2 separate regions of the Homo sapiens genome follow, and region 2 is linked to region 1. The links come from fine-mapping of genetic effects on gene expression. A gene starts in region 1. The other region holds a variant in brackets. All regions are shown on one strand. Distances are between the middles of the regions.

The links.
Region 2: its variant is fine-mapped to the expression of NSG1 in whole blood (INTERVAL, PIP above 0.99).

What each region holds. Positions count from the first base shown.
Region 1 is chr4:4,385,430-4,388,441 of GRCh38, forward strand. It overlaps NSG1 (neuronal vesicle trafficking associated 1), which reads left to right and starts at 1,673. Exons shown (of 5, transcript NM_014392.5): 1 at 1,673-1,744; 2 at 2,175-2,329. The coding sequence starts at 2,201.
Region 2 is chr4:4,348,553-4,351,304 of GRCh38, forward strand. No RefSeq gene overlaps it. Among named protein-coding and RNA genes, the nearest start is that of NSG1, 37 kb to the right of the region's middle. The variant G/A (reference allele first, on the strand shown) is at 1,451.

The DNA.
Region 1 (3,012 bases):
GCCCAAAGGGTTTCTCCTGACCAGTGGGTCACTCTCATGGCAGATGCCTGGGCAGATTTCTGAAGTGGAGCAAGAGAAATCTTCTCTTCTTCACCTGCTTCAGGGAGGCATCAAAGTGCCAAAAAGGTGGGTTCTGTGGGTCCCCGAGGCCCGTGGCAGGGGCCAGAGTCTGACACCCGCTTTCCCTGGGTTGGGGGCGGGGTGCCTCTGCCAGGAGCCTGGGTTCAGACCAGGCTGGCCTGTGGTCAAAGGCACACTTAGACCCTGGCTGGAGAGTTGGGGCGAGTTACGAGATACCCACTAGGTCACCTGTCAAAGACGGCTAGCCCTCCTGGGGATTTTGAAATCAGGGCACCCGCGGCAAGTTCCCAGGCTGTGCCTGGGGCTCAAGGCGGTGGCTGCTCCTGTGCTCTGGGCTTATTCCCAGGATTCTCAGACGGCTGATGGAAAACGCCCCGGACCCTCCGTAGTGCCGCGGGGAAGTCCCCGGAAAGGGTGTGAAAAAGTATCGAATTTGGGTGATGCCTCCTCCTCGTCCAGCGCCTGACAGGGCCCAGCTCCTGGCCCAGGTGCCCAGGAGGCACCGATCCCCGCAGCCGGCCTCCTCCCGCGCGGGCTCCACTCCCATTTCGGCCTCGCCCCCACACCCCATAGTCTTTCATCCGTGAGTCCTGCAGGCAGGACGGGTTGGAGGTCTGCAAACAGGACCCTCTCTGGGAAGCCGCGACAGCGGCTGAGCTCGGGGTTTGGGGGCGCAGGTCGGGCTAGAACCACCCCCCTTCTCTCCGCGTCCGGGCATCGTCCCAGCGGCCCCTCCTCTGTGCCCAGGATGCTCGGGCGGCGGCTGCAGTGGGACCTCCACCTTCTCTGCCAACCAGAGCGGAGGAACCTTTCCGCCTCCCTCCAAGCGGCGCACTGAGCGCTCTTTGCCTAGAACGACTTCCCTCCCGCTGCCTGGGGCAGCCTCACCCTGGGCGCCCACACCCCAGCCCTGGGAGAGCGCTACTCCGCCTCCCGCACCACCGAAAACCTCCTCCTCCTTTACGGGCCGCGCCTCCTTTACGGGCCGCGCCCCCTTTATACGCGGACGCGCCCTCTTTTGGTCGCCCCCTCCCCAACCCAGCACTAAGGAGCACCCTGCTCTGGTCTCCGCCACCACCCAGCGCCTCCTGGACCCATCCCCCCAAACCCTTGAACGTCCTCAGGACCCCCAGGTGAGCGCGGCGCGCTGCGGGCGGGGACCCTCTCTGCACCTCCCCGCACCCCTGGGGGTCGCTCTGTCCCTACGGTCCCCGCCTCCCCTTTCTCCTTTCTAAGCGCCTCGCGCCCAGGCCGCCGCCCGGGGTGGCGCAGCCCGCAGCCCTCCCGCTCCGGGCGCCCTCCGCCGCTCCGAGACCCCCTGGGGGCGCGTCCTCTCCCGCTCCCCTGTTCCCTCCCCCGGCTCAGGGCGGGCGCGTGGTCCCAGGGGAGGCTCCCGCCCAGCCCCGCACTCCTTTGTGCGGCCGGGCGGGCGCTGCGTCAAGGTGGAGGCGCGGCCACACGCGCGCACCCACCCGCGCGCACCCAGCCCCCGGGAGAGGCAGGAAGGGAGGCGGCGGCGCGAGGAGGAGGGAGCGGCCGTGGAGCCCAATCGTTCGCTCCCCTTCCCGGGTCCGCGCGCGGCGCCGCCTCCGCCATTGCTGCGAGCAGGAGCAGGAGACGCGGAGCTCGGAGCGCTCAGCTGACCTGCCGGAGCCGGGCGTGGGTGAGTGCGGCCGGCCGCGCCTGGGCTTGCCGAGGCCAGACCTTGCCCGCCCAGGAGCAGTGCCCGGGGGATGCCCATCTCCCGGAGTACGCGGGACGGGGCTGTGAACAGCGGGTCGCCCGGGTGCGGCGGCCCCAGGACCGGGGACCGGGTCTGGAGGTGCTGGGCAGGGGCGGCGCCCCCTTCCCTGGCCGCGGTGCGCCCTTGCGCCCGGCGCTTGGGTCCTGCGAGATGAGGGTCTAGAAATACACAGCACCACCCGACCCCCGCATCGGGCCGTGACCACCGCGTCCCCACGAGCCCTCCCCGAGACGAAGCGGGGCCGGGGAGCTCGCGGACGCCGGGACGCCGGTGGGTGTGGGTGCCCACTTCCCCCCCGCCCCGCCCCGGGTCTTGCTTGTGGTGACTCCCCCCGGCCCTCCCGCCGCAGGCTGCAGCCTCGGAGCTCCCGGAACGATGGTGAAGTTGGGGAACAATTTCGCAGAGAAGGGCACCAAGCAGCCGCTGCTGGAGGATGGCTTCGACACCATTCCCCTGATGACGCCCCTCGATGTCAATCAGCTGCAGTTCCCGCCCCCGGATAAGGTAAGCCCCCCCACGCCCCTCCACGTTGCCGGGTGTGCACCCCCAAATCTCGCACGGCGGGCGCAACAAAAGAAACGCGCCGCGTGCGCTGGGTACGCGAAGTGGGGGCGGGCTCGGGAGGCCGGAGGGAGCGCGGCGAGGACAGTGTACCCGCGCGGGATTCTGGATCGCGGGATGCTGGGCGGGGGAGGGGAGCCCTGCCTTAGATGATATTCTCGTCCTGACAGTGGAACGCGGTGGGGCAAGATTCCTTCGCGTTTTTCCTGGGAGCCTCATCCGAGAGGGCCCTGGCCCCGCAGCTGCCCTGCTCCTCCCTTGCCCCGTGGCCCCAGGGGCTCTGGATCGGGGGTGAGCCTAGGGGCGGGCGAGGCTGCCCCTGTACCTTCCCGGGTGTGGCAGTTCAGCCCGACTTGCCCCACCGAGGCGGGGGAGCGTTCTCCTTGGTCAGATGGCCCCTCCCCAGGGCTGAATTGTTCTCGCCCTTTCTGCCTGCCCCTGCCAGGCTGGCGCTAGGTGCAGGAGGGTGTGCGCGCTCACACAGGGTCTCCTTCCTCTTTGTTCCTTTTGTGAAATCTCCAAATAAGTGCCCGGGCTCGCTCAGTATTGGTGTCACTGGGAAAAACCATTCATCAACCTTTCCCCAAAGTGTTTTCTGCTGAATTTAAAGAATCTCCTCTTTTTGA
Region 2 (2,752 bases), 37 kb before region 1:
AGTGGGTTCGTGGTCTCGCTAACTTCAGGAGTGAAGCTGCAGACCTTAGCAGTGAGTGTTACAACTCTTAAAGGTGGCGCGTCCAGAGTTGTTTGTTCCTCCCGATGGGTTTGTGGTCTCGCTGACTTCAGGAGTGAAGCCACAGACCTTCACAGTGAGTGTTACAATAAAGCTAGTGGGGACCCAAAGAGTGAGCAGCAGCAAGATTTATTGTGAAGAGCCAAAGATCAAAGCTTCCACATCCTGCAAGGGGACCCCAACGGTTTGCAGCTGCTGGCTCAGGTGGCCAGCGTTTATTCCCTTATTTGGCCCTGACCACATCCTGCTGATTAGTCCATTTTACAGAGTGCTGATTGGTCGTTTTTACAGAGTGCTGATTGGTGCGTTTACAAACCTTTAGCTAGACACAGAGTGCTGATTGGTGCGTTTTTACAGAGTGCTGATTGGTGCGTTTTTACTGAGCGCTGATTGGTGCGTTTACAAACCTTTAGCTAGACACAGAGCGCTGATTGGTGTGTTTACAATCCTTTAGTTAGACAGAAAAGTTCTCCAAGTCCCCACCCAACCCAGAAGCCCAGCTGGCTTCACCTCTCACTGGGATTACAGGCGTGAGCCACCACGCCCAACCGGTAGGAACAAAATAACTTTAAACAATTGTCCCCAGGTGTAGGCACCGGCTACAGGGGGCCAGGGAATGACTGGAATTCCATACCCATGTCTCTGTGGGTCTGCAGATCTCTCAGTTCTCAGCCTGCTCTGAGCTATTTTTCTTTTCTCATATCCCCCCTGTTGATCAAAATTATTCCCATGGCAGCATTGATGATCAGTCTCTGTGCAGGTGGCAGTGATAGATGTCCTTCATCCCTCAGTGCTGGGAAGTCTCATTCCTGGGTAGTCCTCATTCAAGCCACTGATTTATATAAATGCTGTTGTTGCTTGTTGAATCATCTCCACTCTTCAGAATATCATTTTCTGGTTTTCTTGGAAGAAGCAAAACCCTGAGAGATACATAGTAACAAAGCCTATTCCATTGGGGATTCAGTTCAAATTGTAGGAAAATAATAAAAGAACTCAAAAACAATGGTCGGGGGCTGGAATCTAATAACAGGTGTTCTATAGCTTTCTTCAGGAGCCTAACTTTTTTCTCCAGTCCCTATTTTTACCAAAGTTTAGTATTATACTTGGCCTGATTATTTGCATAAAGTGCAGCAAGAATAGTGATTGGCCATATAGACCCTTTTAAGTTGACTTTGCTGGAACGTTCAGAAGGAATTTCAGATTAGACTTTTAAAAGTCTCAAGGCTAGGACATCAAACCAAGGATTCACCGCTAGACTGCACCTGTAATACTTGTACAAATTGGGTGAATTTCTCTCTTCCCAAGGTCCCCAAAATATCTTTTGGTTCCTGGGCATATCAGAAAGACACATTCTTTATTTACTGCAAGATTA[G/A]AAACCTTGAAAGGGAACTATGTAGACAAGATAGCAGGCCAGTTTTGCCAAGAGGCTTTTTATCAGCTCTATAAAGTCCATTTCAATTCCTCAAAGCAGTGTTATCATATCTGAAAATACGTCATTCCAGTCAGAATCTTGATTTGAAAAAAAAATTGTCTTAAATTGTATCCTGTGACAGAAAACAGATTCTTACTGAACTAATGCAAATAACTTGATTGCCATAAAATACGAATACTCATGAAGATTTTCCAAGTTTTGGGGAAATCAGGTAGAGATAAAGGCAAATGTTTCCATTTTGTTTACAAAGGTATATTTTATCCAGTTTCTATAAGCTACAAATAGTTCAAAAGAGAAAAGTTTTCTTGACTGTGGAAATCAAAATATAAAAAGAATCAGCAATGTTTTGGGCAAAAAATCATAAAAGTCATTTCAGTCCTCTATCAGTTCAGTCCCATGTAATTAATTCTTGTCTTGCTTGATGTTGGGTTAGCAATCTTCATGAATGCATTAGTTTATTAGAGTTCTGAATGTTTTTACTTGGTCCAATGATACGATCTTTGAAGTTATCAAAAACCTGTATTCAAGAGTACAGGGCCGGCCGGGCGCGGTGGCTCACACTTGTAATCCCAGCACTTTGGGAGGCCGAGGCGGGCGGATCACGAGGTCAGGAGATCGAGACCATCCTAGCTAACACGGTGAAACCCCGTCTCTACTAAAAATAGAAAAAATTAGCCGGGCGTGGTGGCGGGCGCCTGTAGTTCCAGCTACTCGGGAGGCTGTGGCAGGAGAATGGCGTGAACCCAGGAGGCGGAGCTTGCAGTGAGCTGAGATCAGGCCACTGCACTCCAGCCTGGGCGAAAGAGCAAGACTCCGTCTCAAAAAAAAAAAAGAGTACAGGGCCAGGGTCCTTTTCCATGAATCTCTTTGAAGAAAAAGCAAATTTGAACTGCAGCCAGTTGTAAATCACTTTTTGAGAAGAATCAAAATAGAGCAATAATTGTCTATGAATGGCAAAAGACTTCGGGTAGCTATAGTTAAAGATGTAATTAACAAGGAAATTTGATTATTTCTGTGGCATACAATAATTTAACATAATAACTATAATTATGTGTGACAACATAGACGTATCAGAATGTTAGGAATCTCATAACTTGAGAACACACATTCATAACGTATCTATACAAATATAACTCAAACAAATTTAAACACCATTTCTTATTTGACAAAGCTTCCTGTATGACTTTAACATACCACGGTGGCTTAATATGTTTCTCTTGGGCCACAGGAGTTCCTTCTTAA